2 separate regions of the Homo sapiens genome follow, and region 1 is linked to region 2. The links come from fine-mapping of genetic effects on gene expression. Tissue or cell type: lymphoblastoid cells. Region 2 holds a variant in brackets; the other region holds the start of a gene. All regions are shown on one strand. Distances are between the middles of the regions.

Region 1 (8,000 bases), 26 kb after region 2:
CTATGTGTGTCCACAATAAGCAGCAGGTACCTAAAACTGGGAAGAAAAAAATTTGCAGAACAATTACTCTCTTGTAAGCAAGTTAATGAAATTAATGGAATAGATGTTACATCATCTCAATGAGAGAAGGCTGTGTTAGGAAACTCTTAGTGACTCAGAATAACAAGCCCTGCATGAATACTGATGACCCTTAGCAAAAAATTCTTTCAATTCAGAAAATTCAGATTTTTGCCAAAACATCCCATGAAACTGAGGTGTGAAGGAAAAAACAAATTTATCAGCAAGAGTGATTTTAGGGAGCTTCAAATGAAATGGAAGACTAAACTGTTAAATATCCCATTTTGATCATGATGTTATCTTTCTAAAAAACTTCATTTATTTAGAGCCTATATAAACATTTATTTAGAGCCTATAATTTCTGGGTATTATAATAAGCACTTGATTTGGATTATCTCATGTAATTTGGCAACAACCTAAGAGGTAGGTTTTATTAGGCACCAAGTGCCCCCTTTTATTGATGACAAGATTAAGGCTTAGAGAGGTTAAGGAACTTGCCTATAGTTACACAGTTAGCAGTGGAGCCAGGATCTGAACCCAGGTCATTTGATCTCTGCATACTGTCCATGAATCACAATCTCTTGCAGCCTCTATTCCTCTTCCCCCTTTTAAACCCTGCCAGAGAGGTACAGATGAGTCTCTGACTTAAGTCTTCTTCCTACTAAAGAATACTGAGCCTTCTTCTTTCCAGTTTCCTTGAAATGACAAAAGATATTCCTGTCTCTAGTTCACTTGGTAGCACTCTTTTCTCCTGTTGGCTTCCAAGAAAAGTAAGATATTTCTGATACACATCCACAGATGCCACTTTTGACTAGGGCAATTCAGACTTGAATGTACCTGGGCTTGAAGTTGAGTCACCCCCTAAACCCCACCCCACTACAGTGTGTGTTCAGCCAATCACAAGTCTGATCTCATCTTCTCCAGAAATGCCTCTGGGCATCAGGTCCTTTCTTCCCACTGCCATCACCTGAATCCATTTCTTAGTGGCCTGCATCGATCCAGCCTGACATTTTTACTCTTGTCCTTCTATTTAGAATCCCTCAAACGCTCCATCCCCATGGCTTCTTGCTGATGTTTGGCAGTTTCTGTGGTACCGAATCTCTGGAGGCCCACCTACAGGAACCTCCTTTCCAGCCAAGCTGCTTTCTTTCTTGCCTTTTTAGCTCCTCATTAGAGTATTCACCAAATTTCCCTTTCCAAGATCTCACCTTCCTTAAAGGCTCTTTTGGGTCTCAATTCTCTTAGGAAATGTTTGTTCCCCTCAGCCCAGGTGCACAATCACTTCTTTATCTATGCTTTCCACTTGGCATTTGATGCCCACATGGTATTTCATAATAATTGACTCACAGAAATTGATTTGTCCTTAGTGCTCATCTAGTTAAACTCCCTTACATTACAGATGGGGAAAACTTAGAGCCAAAGGGAGAAAATAACTCACCTGAGGCCACATAGGTAGTGGAGGCTGGTCAAGAACTCAGGCTCCTAATTATCAATTTTTCTACATAATTCCCTTTGCTATGGACATAATATGGGAATTTAGTCCTGTTTCTTGCAAAGTAAAAGATTTACTCTGGTCCAGTCACCAGACAGTTAGTCAATAGCACTCCTAACAGCCTATATTTCACCATGCTGATCCCCCTTCACTTGCTCCATTTCTCTCCATGCACTTTGTAAATCAGTGTTTCTCAATGAGTGTTCCTTGGATCTTGACTCCAAAATTACAGGTGATTCCTTCTTATAATGCAGTTCCCTGGGCTTTACCTAAACCTGTTGAATCAAGTTGTCTTAGAATCTGCCATTTCAAAACCATCCCAGGTGATTCTTAACCATAGAAAATTTTGGAACCATTGATATATATACAGCCTATTTTTTTAATTATAACTTTTCCCTAAATGTGTCTGCAAATTCACATTTACTATATAACACGACACTACTTTGTTTGTTATTAATATAATTTGTGGATTCTCAATCTTCTAAGTGCTCTATAAAGAACTTTAAACCCCTATGCTTTCCTGATGAGATCCCTGCCCCTAACCCCTTCCCACAGTTGTGGGGACCGTATTGCCAGCAGCACCAAAACTATGTGCAGGATGGAGCCAGGACCTGTTCTGGGATCACTCTGACTCTCACGCTGTTCCTCTGTACAATAAGTTCTGTCTCCTAAGAGCCATGTACTATTTTCATAAGAAATTTTTTTTTTTAAGGATTCAAATAAAAATCAGTCCTAAGTTCTGCAGTCTTTCTAGTTATATTAACGTTAACATTAACCATTCTTTTCTCTCCAGCCTCCCTGTTTTCTACTGAGAACTCTTCTCCCTAATCCTACTGATGACAGGGGCCTGCAGACTTACATTATTTCCCTGGCCTGGGCTTTATGACTGAATCTCAAGAGTCCAGGAGCAGACTTCCTCCCATGGGTAAATATGTAGGTCACATTAAAGAATGTATTCTGCAATTCTTCACCTCAAGAAAATGCCAACAAATCCCGGAGAATGGAATATACCTTGGGCATTATTTCCAAGTCACGTTTAGGGTTCTTTCACATTCCATGCCCAGGGCTAACTCTTGGTCATTTTCCTCTCTGCTTAGTTTCTGCCTCCCCTGGTCTGAGTAAGTTTCTGTCTGAATTCTCTTCATGCCTCATCTTCTTCCCAAAATGAAAGGAGGATAGTTACTCACAATTTTGCCATTTTGATACCTTGCTGAGAGCACTTTATAAATATTACAAAAGAAATCTAGAAGGATTCCACATCCCATCCCAGATCATTAGGGACCAGCCCCTTCAGTGTACAGAAGAGTAAACAGACAACAGAGAGGGACAGTAACTTGTCCAAAGACACACAGCTAATTGGTGGCAGTTCTGGAGGCCAGATCCCCAACCCCCTAAAGCAATGGTCATTCATTCCTGTGAAAGCCACCGAGGACAGATGTTCTCCTACTTAGAAACAATTGTTGAGGACATTTGTCTGTTGACTTCCTGGATATTCTCATCAGCTTCCAACGAATTCAGACTTCTTACTGAGCTTATGAAACCAGGAAGCACCAGCAGTCTTCGGATCTCTTTCTCTGGAGGCCCAAATTCCCCTAACTGAGCAGCTCAGGCTGCCGTGGCTCACCTGTCCAAAGTCAGAGAGTTTCCTGCCCAAGCCTGGGTTTTCCAGGACCGCAGTGGACATGCTGGCTCCCCGGGAGTGAGGTCTCTGGCTTTTTAGGGCCTCAGGTACAGGCAGGTTTGCAAACAGCACGTGGGGCTGAAGGTTTTAACCTCGCACTAGGGAGGAGAAGAGAGTTACAAAGGGTGTCTCTTGCGTGGTGCATCTCCGCACAGTAACGCCCCTCGTGGGCGTTGTCCTGACGCAGGAGGCCAGGGCAGCCTGCCGGATGCTCCAGGTCACCTGCCCAGGACGGGCCGGAGGGGAGGGGCTGAGGGAGGGTGTGGGGGACGCAGGAGGCACCACTTCGCTGCCCGCCCTGGGTAAAGGGAAGAAGCCAGGGAGCGACGGGCCACCCAAGCCCCGTCGATTAGACAGGTTTAGGCACTTCCGGGACTCTCAGAAGCCTGGGAAGCGAGTTCTCTGCAATTGGACTAAGCCTGCGACCGTCTGGTATAACAATTATATGAATAATCCGCCCCCCTTACCCCCAGCTGAAACAGTCAGGATTCTCATTTAGATTTTTGTTGTTGTTGTTTTCCCTTCTGTTAACCTCTAAGCACACTGCCTTGCTGTGCGCTGACTTCAGAAAACTACAGCTAGAGGGCACGTGAACGCTGAGCACAGCAGGTAAAGAGCAAATGTAAGAGCGATCTGGGTTTAAATCCAGCCTGGTGTTCTCCAGCTATTCGCACAACTGCTCCTGAAGCTCGGAAAAGAGGGTGGTAGAGCCACCTTGCTGGAAGGTTTTAAGAATAGGAATAAAGAAATGCATTAAAATTTAGTACAGTTCTTCCACATAAACACTCAGTAAATGGAAGATATTGTTTAAAAGCAAATCCACATAAATTTGACAATAATTACTGAGACCTGTACCGTGTGCTTGGTGGTGTTCTAGTCTTTGGGAATACAGCAATGAACAAAACAGACTCTGCCTCCCCAGCTATGCTGCCATTCTGGTGGGCAGAAAATAAACATATAAATAAGTTTAGGTAGGGCTAAGTCTTTTGAAGAAAGTAAAGTAGGGGGATGGTCTATGAGTGAGCTGGTGGGATTTGGCCAGTGGTCTTCAAATAGTCAGGAAGATGCCATTAACCACACTTTTAGAGAAGACTGAGGGTGAGGCATTACTGACCAGGAGGTAAAACAAAGTATAAAAGAATGCTGGAAAGCAGGTTCAGAGGTTCAGAAAGGATGTGAAAACTCAGGGGCCTCAAGCCTTGAGTGCCTGCTTAATATTTTCCCAAGAGAAAGTAATGGGCTGTAAGAAAATAAGCCAATAATAAAGGTTGCTGGAAGCCCATCCCTCTCCTCCCACTGTTCTTTGACCAAGCATCTGAAAATAAATAAACAAATAAATAAATAAATAAGTAAAATAAAACTCAGGTTTAGGATTCAAAACAAGTGGTTTAACTCTTGGTTCTACCACTGATTTGGTCAAGCCCATGCCTCAGTTTTTTTTTGTTTTTTTTTTTTGTTTTGTTTTTGTCTTTAAAATGAGAATTTTAAGGGATATTTAGGATTCCTTAAGCCTTTATGATGTGCCAGGCTGTCTACTGTCTGCTAAGAATACAGATATAACAAGTGCAATTTCTGTCCAAAAGGAACCTTTAGGGGCCTGATGAATATTTCCCATAGTAAGTTGGAAGCTCAATGTTGTTAAATATTGAAGGCGAAGATCTTGATTTCCATCCTCAGGAGAATCTGTATTCTTTATCTGACTCCGGCATTTTTCAGTGTAGTAGACATAAAACATGTTGTATTCCTCAGCCTCAGGATTTTCTTACAAACATAATTTCATCCCTTGATGCTACTTGAGGGCAATGAATGTGACAACTCCAAAAATATTACAGGCATGCAATAAAGAAAAGCAAAGAATATTATCTACTTATTTGCATGCACACTCTGTCTTAGACACTGTGCCACGCTCTCCACGTGCATGGTTTCACTTCTTCCTCTTAACAATCCCATGAACTATGCACTCCCTTTTAATAGGCAAGAAACTGAGGCCTAGGAAGTTTAAACAAATGGCCCAAATTCAATCTATGTTTCACCCAACACCAAGGCACTGCACTGGCTCTCAAATACTTTTGCTTTCCTGTTTGAAATGAGGACAACATAATTTTTAGGACAACAAAATGATAGCTTTTCTTTCTTCTCCCCATAACAGCTGAAAATGCAACTCTTTTTTCTAATGTTTAATTTTTGTGGGAACATAGTAGATGTATGCATTCATGGAGTATGTGCAATATTTTGATACAGGCATGCAATGTGTAATAATCACATCATTGAAAATGGGGCATCCATCCCCTCAAGCATTTATCTTTTGTGTTGCAAACAAGCCAATTATACTCTTTCAGGTATTTTTAAATGTATAATTAAATTATTTTGACTATATTCGCCCTGTTGTACTATCAAATACTAGGTCTTATTCATTCTTTCTATATTTTTTTGTACCTATTAACCATCTCCACCTCCCCTCCAGGCCCCTACTACCCTTCCCCACCTCTGGTAATTAGCTCTCTACTCTCTAGCTCCATGAATCAGATTGTTTTGATTTTTAGACCCCACATATGAGTGAGAATATGTGATGTTTGGCTTTCTGTGCCTGGCTTATTTCATTTGACATAATGACCTCCAGTTCTGTCCATGTTATTGCAAATAACAGGATCTCATTCTTTTTTATTGCTGAATAGTACTCCATTGTGTATTAAAGTACCACATTTTTTTAAAACCCATGTTGATGGAGACTTGGGTTGCTTCCAGATCTTGGCTATTGTGAACAGTGCTGCAACAAACATAAAAGAACAGACATCTCTTTGATATACTGATTTCCTTTCTTATAGGTATATACCCAGCAGTGGGATCACTAGATCATATAGTAGCTCTATTTTTAGTTTTTTGGGGAACTGCCAAACTGTTCTCCATAGTGGTTGTACAAAAATGGAATTTTTAATCCTATCTCACATAAAAATGCCCTAAATCTAGGTTGAGAGGAAAGCACATCATTGCTATCTGAGAGAAGAAAAACTAATCGCTTCTTTAAAAAAAATTATTCTGGCAAAAAGGAAAAATTTATTTATGCACTAAGATAAAAATAAGAGATTGCTTGTGCCATAAACTTGCAGATGATTTTTAAGCCACCTTTTTGTTCAATTTGGTTGGAATGCAATGTGCTGCTATAATGAGAGCAGTGCTGGGTGCTAAGGAAATGGAGGAAAAAAAGGCACATCTAGAAGAAGCATCCACAGTCAGTCAGTAGACCACTGAGGTATTTTTTAACACTGCACAGAGGTGGGGAACATGTCACAAGATGAGAAGTTGTGTACTTGGCAAACTTAGAGCTGACCTTTGCTGATTTGGAAGTTGAAGATTACCCAACCATTGCAGGTTTATCAGTTCTTTCTTGTTTATCTTCATGTGCAGAAGGTTGAGTTAATCATAATCCATGAGTTCATGGCACAGAAACAAAACCTACATGACCCTTCTCTTGTTTTTTTATTCATTCTCTTTTATCATAATTCCTCACTCTCACTGCCTTTCCCCAGAGGCAACTTCTCTAATATGATGTTTAGCCTTGAACTTGTAAAATACATAGAAATGTTTGTGCGTATATGTATTTTTCATGGATATGTGATGTGGCACTATAGATTTACTACAATCTATGGATGTACTATAGATTTCATAGTTTCTTTTTTCTTTCAACTGTGTTCTTAGGATCCAGCCATGCTGCTGAATATGTATCTAGTTCTTTGCTTTTCTAAATGGTTCAGAATATCCCAGTGTGTATTTGCCACACTTGACTTCTTTATTTTCCAGTTATGGACATCTAAGTCATTGCTAATTTTTCACCACCCCAAACAATACTGTGATAAATTTCCTTATCTTTCTTCCCTTATAGGCCTGGGGTAGAAATTTTCTGGGATAGAAGAGTGGTGCTATTATGAATCATAGGGAACATGCACTCTTAATTTCACAAAGTGCTGCCAGATTGCCCTTTAGAGTGGCTTGGACCAGTCTACACACCAACCAGCAGGCAAAAGAGTTCCTATTGGTGGGTATACCTAATATGTGGTATTCTCCAAAGGTCAGAATTTTTGCCAATCTGATCAGCATAAGCTGGTGTCTTGTTGTTTTTAATTTGAATTTCTCTCATAACTCATGAGTTTGAGCATCTCTTTATATACTTATACCTCTTAGATTTCCCATGCTATGAATAGTTTATCATCATATTTTCTACCCATTTTCTACTAGGATTCCTGTCTTGTAGATTTGTTGCAATAATTTCTGTTAGCTCTGTGTCCAAATATTAGCTCTGTGCCCTTCTCAGTCACTGAACACATTGCCTCCCAATGTGTCACTGTCAGTTAATTGTCAACTGGTGTCCTTCCTTGATTAAACAATAAAACAAGTAATTTTGAAATAACAAGTCCATCCTTTTAAAAATTTTTGTGGTTTGTACTATAGAGTATTGTTTAAGAAGTCCTTCCCCATCCCAAAGTTCCAAAGAGGTGCTCTTCTCTCTAGCATCTAGATCTATCATAGCTAGATCTTTAATCTACCTGCATTGTAGATATACCTGTACATGCCTTGGGGATTTCTTAGAGGCTTTTCAACATGGTCCCACAGTCCAGGTAATACCACTTAACTTAAAGAGGCCAATCCCACAATCAATTGTCTTTTGGGATTTTCTCACCATAGAGCCTATTTTAACTTTCCGCTAGATATATAGATCAAATTTTCTTTCTCTGATTTGAAAGTTATCCCTTATATTTTAATTTTTTTGCTGTA
Region 2 (8,171 bases):
GGAAAGCAACTTGGCCGAACAGCTACAGCCCAGGAATTGAACTGGAAAATCCATGCAACCTTTTAATTATACCTTTCTGACTTGTTTTCTAATATTGAAAACAAGAATAATACTATGTTTGCTTTAGCTGCCTGAGTTGGTTGTTGCAAAGCTTAAATGAGATAACCTAATGCGAAAGAATTTGGAAAACACTGGGTGTGGCATATCACTGAGGGATTCCTCTTAGAATGAGAGCCTCCTTATAATTTTGTAATCTTCCTGAGCTTGAAGCTCTGTGACCTGGCAAACTAGATGGGCTGCAGAAATAGCATTTGCTCAGGATCTTCCTTTGCCAATGAATAGAGTTGCCTGTGACTGACTGCAGGGAGCAGACAGTCTACCAAGGATATGAAGGGACTCTGCTTCCCACTCCTGGGTTGGTGTCACCTCCCCCTGAATGGGCTGATCCTCTCAGCTGGAGTCTGCTTGTCTCAGTGAGGCAGTTTGCTGAAACGAGTGACCTCCCCAGCTGCCAGGACTTAGTGCTACATCAGTGCATCCAGCAAGCATCCAGGTAAAGACTGAAAAAGACAGCCAATCCTGTGTGTTTTTGCAAACATGCAGATACTTGGTCTCCTGCAGACACAGAGCCACATACATCTACAGCTGTGAAAGGCACACATGGAATGCACAAAGTGAAATGCACGGGAGAAGGTTTAGAACTGAGAAGAGGGCAATGGGAAGGTGGAGACAGAAAAGCCAAGCAGAGGAAAGGAGAGAGGAAAGAAAAGTGCAGGTGGTGGGAGTGGGGAAAAACTCTAACCAGATGGATTCCCTTCCAGCCCTAAGCGGCTTCTCTCTAAAAATTCTTAACTCTTTGGGAACCATAGCCCCTTTGAAAAATCTTGTCTCCTAAAAATTATGCATGCACACCCATGTATTATCTTGCCCACAATCCCAGGGGCTTTTCAGAGCCCTCTAAGGAATCCTATCCTCCCTTCAACCCCAATTGATCTGAAATGTCAGCTTTACTCAGCACAGTTCTTCAGGTCAGCAATGTTGAAGCAGAAGAAACTCAAGAAGGCAAGGAGGGGCAACAAGAGGGAAGGAATGACTATAATGATGTTGCTTTTGTCTTCTCACAGTAATCATAAGTGTTCCCAGACAACATAGATAGATAGATAGATAGATAGATAGATAGATAGATAGATAGATAGATGATAGATGATTGATGGACAGATAGATAGGTAGATAGATGATAGATAGACAGGTGTAGATGATAGATGATGGATAGATAGACGGATAGATAGATAGACAGATAGATAGATAGATAGATAGACAGGCAGATAGGTCTTTCTGCTTTCCACAGAACCAGTAGTTGTTCTGGCAATTTGAACTCACTTTTCTTCCCCACCAGGACCCTTATAATCACCATAGATTAAACAAAACCCAACAGATATTTATCTGCTCTTGGAAAATAACTGCAAACATATTTCTCAAATGGTGATGTTCCTAACTTCTGTCTACCCAAGACATTGTGTCTGTCTGCTTCTCCTGGCTGCAATCTCTCTCCACGTAGGAATTTTCTAGCCCCCACTAAATGTAATGTCATGCAGTCGACTCAAAGGGAAAGGTAAAAGGATTAGTAGATTGATCGATGAAAGATATTAATGCTCTTTCATGTTGGGTTGAAGAAGGATTTGAAGTCATCAGGAAAGAGGGTAGCAGGAGAATAGACCTCAAGTATTCAAAAGACTCTCTGGATTAAAATCCTATTAAATTCACATCAGCTTCTCCAGGAGGCATTTGAGAAGGTTGGGGTTTCTTTACCATGTCGCTGTAATTAACCTTCTCTTAAGCTGTTTTGGGTGGGGAACTTTCGCAATTAAGAAACTGAAAAACTTTTATTTTCTATCACCCACATGGCTTTTTGAATGGTTTAAAAACTAGAGTGGAAAGTAGTTTAGCTTAATTGATTTGAGGGGTTCAGATCTCCTACTTGAACCTGCTGTCAGACTCGCCTCTGAGATCTGAGCCCCACAATAAAAAGGGCATTTTGTCCGGAGAAAGAATCAAAGGTTCAGATCTACTACAATGCTTTTCTTCCTCTGACTGTTCTCCCACTGAGTCCTATAGAAAGGGCAACTTTGCAAAGGAATGGTTGTTCCCCTTAAGAAAAACCTGTTTCTTGGCCCAGACCCCACTTCACGGAAACTACCACAGAAACCCAAAGAGTCTTTCTTGGCAGATGCCAGGTCGTGGCATGTCAACATCAGCTCTCTCATTACAGGTATGGTAAGGTCAGGTGGGGGCAGCCACTATGGGATTGGGTGACCAATCATCTGAAGAAATAAGGGTCACAAAACACATGTTATTTTAAAGGGTTGGTCTTAGCTAGTTTTTCTTCCCTAGGGAAAATGTCATCCCACTTCAAATATCAACAACTTTGACATTTTGAGCAAGAAAGCGAGAAGCCCCATTAGGGAATTGAATCTGTGCTTCCTCCAGGCTCCAATAAACCCAACTTTTATTACATGATGCCTCTATGTGAAAACATTAACTTTTTAGGCCGGGCACTGTGGCTCACACTTGTAATCTCAGCACTTTGGGAGGCCGAGGTGGGCGGATCACCTGAGGTCAGGAGTGTGAGACCAGCCTGAACAACATGGCGAAACCCCGTCTCTACTAAAAATATAAAAATTAGCCGGGCGTGGTGTCATGTGCCTGTAATCTCAGCTACTCGGGGAGGCTGAGGCAGGAGAATGGCTTGAACCCGAGAGGCGGAGGTTGCAGTGAGCAGAGATTGTGCCACTGTACTCCAGCCTGGGCGACAGAGTGAGGCTCCATCTCAAAAAAAGGAAAACATTAGCTTTTTTACTTTCTTACTTCCTGGATCCTCAGAGCTAAACATGAGTGGAGAACAGGCGGAATCACACCAACCCTGTCTTTGTCACAGCACCTGTCCCTCTATTCTACTTACCTGGGTGTGTCTTCCCCTTTGCCAGGCTGTGAGCTCCTTAAGAACAGGCAGATTGACCCTTTCTTTCCTAGCACTGTGCCCGGCACAGAGCTGCTCTCAACACACCCTTGCGCATGACCCCCCAGAACCCACTGTTTGCCTTAAGGCAAGTCACAGCCTCTGTTTTCACAATGAAAAATGAAGGGGTCTGTAGGGCTGCATGACCTCTCAGGTCATTTTCCAGTTGCCAGACTCTGAAAAAGTAGCTGTGTACAGGCTGCATTTTGGTCGCTCTTGTGCTCATGCCAGTGTTTATAATAATAATGATGATAATGGTAAGAATAGAGAATAACTTTAAGTCCTTAATTAAACATGCTCTGCTCTGTTCCCAGTGCTTCACTTGTGTGATTTCACCAATCCTATAAGGCAGAGGCTCTTGTGACTCCCCTTTGATACAGTGGGAGACTGCAAGGGTCAATGATTTGCTCAAAGTCACACCGAGTGTGGTCGCCGTGCTTCCTGAATCTGCACTCTTAACTCCCCCTCAATGTCCCCACTAAGAACCTCCTTTCTGAGCCTCCAGTTCAGGCTGCCGGCTCTCCAGCTGGTTTACTATATATTCCCTGGCTCCTCCAGGGGCTGGCTGTCTGCCTGTCAATTGCTTTGATTTCCTTCCTCATGGCCCCAGCTGGCCCAGCCTCCACCTGCTCCAACCAGAGGCTGAATTGCCCCAGGATCTGGCAGGCCCTTTGTCCAAAGGGTCTGCAGCTCCTGTTGAGAGCAGGTGGCCGGAAAAAAGCAAGGGAGGGCAGTCATTGGGGAAGCAGCTTGGGAGGCTGAAAAGGAAAGAAGGCAGGATAGGACTAATCCAGGGAGGAATTCCAAGTGCCTGCCCTCCAGGGACCTGAGCCCATCTGCATGGCTGTCCACTCTCCACAAGGCCAGAACACTGGAGTGGGCTTTCCTTGCCTTGGTTATACCTACAGGAGAATGAAGGCAGAGATGAGTCTCCTAGAAAGGCCATGGAGCTACCTTTTAAAAAATGTTTCAGTGGCCTGTTTTACGGGGTGGATCTTGTCTCATTTTAAAGCATCTCTGCCTATTCAAATGCTTCTTTCAGCTATGGTGCCTGAACTCCTCTTGACCCAAAGTCTTTCCAAGTGTTTTTGAAAGAAACTCGATTTTACAGTAGAAAAAAAATAATTTTTTAAAGAAGTTAACCTCAGCAA[T/C]CACATTCTTAGGTATTTACTTGAATCAGTTGAAAACTTATCTTCACACAAAAAAACTGCACATAAATGTTTATTCACAGCTTTATTCATAATCATCAAAAATTGGAAGCAACCAAGATGTCCTTCAATAGGTGAATGAATAAACAAACTGTGGTACATCTTGACCATGGAATATTATTCAGGAACAAAAAGAAATGAGCTATCAAGTCACAGAAAGACATGGAGGATTTGTAAATATGTATTGCTAAATGGAGGAAGCCAGTCTGAAAAGGCTACATACTGTATGATTTCAACTATGTGACATTCTTGAAAAAGCAAAACTATGGAGCTAGCAAAAAGAGCAGTGGTTGCTGGAAGGAGTCTGTAAAGAAGAAGGAATGAATAGCTGGAGCACAGGGCATTTTTTAGGGCAATGAAACTATTCTGTATGACATTGAAATGGTAGATACATGACATTACGCATTTGTCAAAACCAATAAAACTGTAAAATACAAAGCATGATCCCGAATATAAACTATGGACTTCAATTAGTGATAATATATCAATATCGGCTCATCAGTTCTAAAAAAAAATACCACACAAATGCAAGATGTTAATAGAAGAAACTGAGGTAGGGATGAAAGACCTGGGAACTCTCTGTACTTTCTGTGCAGTTTTTCTGTAAACCTAATACTGCTCTTTTAAAAAGTCTATTAAGGCCAGGCACAGTGGCTCATGCCTGTAATCCCAACACTTTGGGAGGCTGAGGCGGGTGGTTCACCTGAGGTCGAGAGTTTGAGACCAGCTTGACAAACATGGTGAAATCCCGTCTCTATGGAAAATACAAAAATTAGCCAGGCGTGGTGGGGCATGCCTGTAATCCCAGCTACTCAAGAGGTTGAGGCAGGAGAATTGCCTGAACCCAGGAGGCAGAGGTTGCAGTGAGCTGAGATCGCACCATTGCACTCCAGCCTGGGCAACAAGAACGAAATTCTGTCTAAAAAAATAAAAATAAAAATAAAAAATAAAATAAAAAGTCTATTAAAAAATGGTTCATTTGAATATGCTTGAGGCCCTAAAAAGCAGTCACCTTCTTCCTCTGTATTGCTTTCAGGCTAATCATAATCATAATAACAACCACATGCTATCATTTGTCCAGCCCTACAGTGCACCAGGCACTGTTCTAAGCACTGTTTATGTATGACTTCATTTAATCCTCACAAAAGCCCTATGAAAAATTGAGGTCAGGGCAGTTAAAGCAATTTGTCAGGGTATCAAACTCAATATGTGGAAGAAGTAGGACTTGAACCACAGTCTATTCAACTTCAAGCCCACACTTATAATTTCTATACTCTACCACCCTTTTCCTCCCCGGAGGATGAGTAGCATTTCAGTACGTAAATAATGGGACAATGCAAGTTTTGACAACTCCTATATTAGTCATTCACTCAGAAATATGTGCAGAGCACCTGTGTACCAAGCAGTGTGCTAAACTCTGAGGATATAAATATAGGTAAGAGAGTCTACCTGCCCACAAGGAGATTGTATGAGAAGAAGAGACAGATAAGAAGATGGAAAATGACAATGAAAGCCCTAGTAACAAGGAGCCAGGTGTCTCCAGCTCTGGAATTGGCATGTTACAAAAAGGACTTGAAGAGATCCCTTTGGTTGGAGTGGAGAGATTCAAAAATCCATTCAATCATCTTGAGTTGATTTTTGTATATGGTAAAAGGCAGTGGTCCAGTTTCAATTTTCTGCATATGGCTTTCGAGTTATCCCAGCAGTATTTATTGACTAGGAATTCCTTTCTTCATTGCTTGCTTTCATGGGTTTTGTTGAAAATTAGATACTACTTATTGGGTATTATGCTGATTACCTGGGTGACAAAATTATCTGTATACCAAATTCCCATGACACACAATTTACCCGTGTAACAAACCTGTACATATAACCCTGAATTTAAAATAAAAGTCAAAAGAAAAAAGAGAGAGAAAAATAAAAATAAATAAAAATTAAAAGCTTATAAAGTAAAAAAAAAAAAGAAAAAAGAAATAGCTATCTTTAGGAAGGGGAAAAATAACTAAAATTCACTATATGTCTAAAATATACCAGGCACTTGCCTAGGTCCCCAACCTATGTCCACTCATTTAATCCCCCAAACAGTCTTCCAAGGCATTATTTCCAATACATATATATTAATTTTGCTTCCGCAAAATAACAGCAATATATATTAAATATACATATATTTAAATATGCTGTTAAATATGTATATTGCTGTTATTTTATGAAGACAGTGTGGAGTTACTTATGTTGCAAAATTCCTCTAATTCTTACCTGTGTCTTTCTTCTTATCTCGTGAAAGCTCATGGACAGTGGCACCAATGTCATGCCTCAAGATCTTGATGATGTTTGTCAGAGCAGGCAGGCTACGTTTATCCAAATGGGTGAAAAATTCATACTCATCTTTCTTTAAACGAGAAGGTCTAGATTCAATGTGGGTCAGGTTTACATCATTCTCCTAGAAGAGAGAATGGGGAGGGTGAGGAGACAGTCACTGGAACTAACGCAGGCCAAAGATGCAGAACCAGAACAGGAAAACCTAACGCAACAAAATGGAGAGTTCAAGAATACAATTATTTTTATAAGAGTATAAAAAAGTCCTTAAATTTGCAAAAGTTGTTTACTTTTTCTTCTTTAAAACCAAGTACTAAGTGGCAGGAGGTGGGGCAGTTAGTTCACATGTCACAATTTAATCACATGAAAATCTGCTAAAGGCCTAGAATTGCCACTATAAGATTTTGATTTGGTTAAAATATTTAGGACAGTGGCTGCCAAAAATATTTACATAGGAAACACCCCCACTTTCCAAACGAAATTCTATGGAATTACAATAAATAAATAATATAGAAGCAACATTGTTCTGCTTGAATAGGGGGTCAGACTTATTTGATTTATATCTAATATCTAAATTTATTGCTTGTGAGACGATGTACTTTCATGTTTCCATTCCTCAGTTTTTCCATCTGTAACTTGCTGGTCTTAATTATACCTGCTTCATAAGTTCATTGGGAGTGTTGGATGATATGATACATGTGCACCACTTGGCACATAGTAAATGCTCAGTAAAAATTATCTAATATAATTACCACTAATATATTTATATAGGCCTGGCGCTGTGGCTCACGCCTGTAATCCCAGCACTTTGAGGGGCCGAGGTGGGCAGATTGCCTGAGGTCAGGAGTTGGAGACAAGTCTGGCCAACATGGTGAAACCCTGTCTCTACTGAAAACACAAAAGAATTAGCTGGGCATGGTGGTGTGTGCCTGTAATCCCAATCCCAGCTACTTGGGAGGCTGAGACAGGGGAATTGCTTGAACCACGGAGGTGGAAGTTGCAGTGAGCCAAGATCGCGCCACTGCACTCCAGCCTGGGCGACAGAGCGAGACTCTGTCTCAAAAAAAAAAAAAAAATATATATATATATATATATATGTATATAAAATTACTTTCCATTCAAGGTATTCAATAAATATATACATTTGTAACACCCAACAGTGGCCAATCATCCTTCTAGCGGCTTGGGATCCACCAGTGAACAAAATAAAGATGCTTTCCTTTATAAAGCTTACATTCAAGTTGAGGGGATACAAACAACAAACAGAAACTCATTTGTGCATGTTATCATGAGAAAGACTAAGGCAAAAATGCAACACAGAGCAGGGGGAAGCAAATGGGCATTCCTGAGACAGGGTGAGGGCAGATTGCAGGACTAAATAGGGCAGGCACATGGGGCCTCATTGGGATGGCAAGATTTATGTACAGTCCTAAAGGAGTTGAGAGAGGTGAAGGCCGGAAGGTGGCAGCATGCCTGGCCTGTTGAAGAGACAGCCACAAGGTGGGTTGATGAGAGTGGATGAGGTCAAGGGGAAAATAACAGGAGACAGTGTCAGAATAATCACAGGGTCATTGCAGGCCATTTTAAGAATTATGGTTTTGATTCTGAAAGAAATAGGGATCTTTGCAAGA

Alleles and levels. Positions count from the first base shown, and alleles are read on the strand shown. Sizes are in standard deviations (SD) of each study's normalised expression.
For the expression in lymphoblastoid cells of the gene that starts at base 3,347 in region 1, C is the high allele of the variant in region 2 and T is the other (moderate effect, 0.49 SD a copy in GEUVADIS).

What was found. PIP is the estimated chance that this variant, and not a neighbour inherited with it, causes the effect. A credible set is the group of variants that fine-mapping cannot tell apart.
Region 1: PAH starts here. The variant in region 2 is the best candidate, but not a certain one, in a credible set for the expression of PAH in lymphoblastoid cells (GEUVADIS, PIP 0.53).

Annotation. Positions count from the first base shown.
Region 1 is chr12:102,913,898-102,921,897 of GRCh38, forward strand. PAH (phenylalanine hydroxylase) reads right to left here and starts at 3,347. Exons shown (of 13, transcript NM_000277.3): 1 at 3,174-3,347. The coding sequence starts at 3,233.
Region 2 is chr12:102,888,255-102,896,425 of GRCh38, forward strand. PAH (phenylalanine hydroxylase) reads right to left here. Exons shown (of 13, transcript NM_000277.3): 3 at 6,481-6,664. The region is part of intron 2 of LOC124902999 (a long non-coding RNA gene); the gene reads left to right. Among named protein-coding and RNA genes, the nearest start is that of PAH, 25 kb to the right of the region's middle. The variant T/C (reference allele first, on the strand shown) is at 4,168.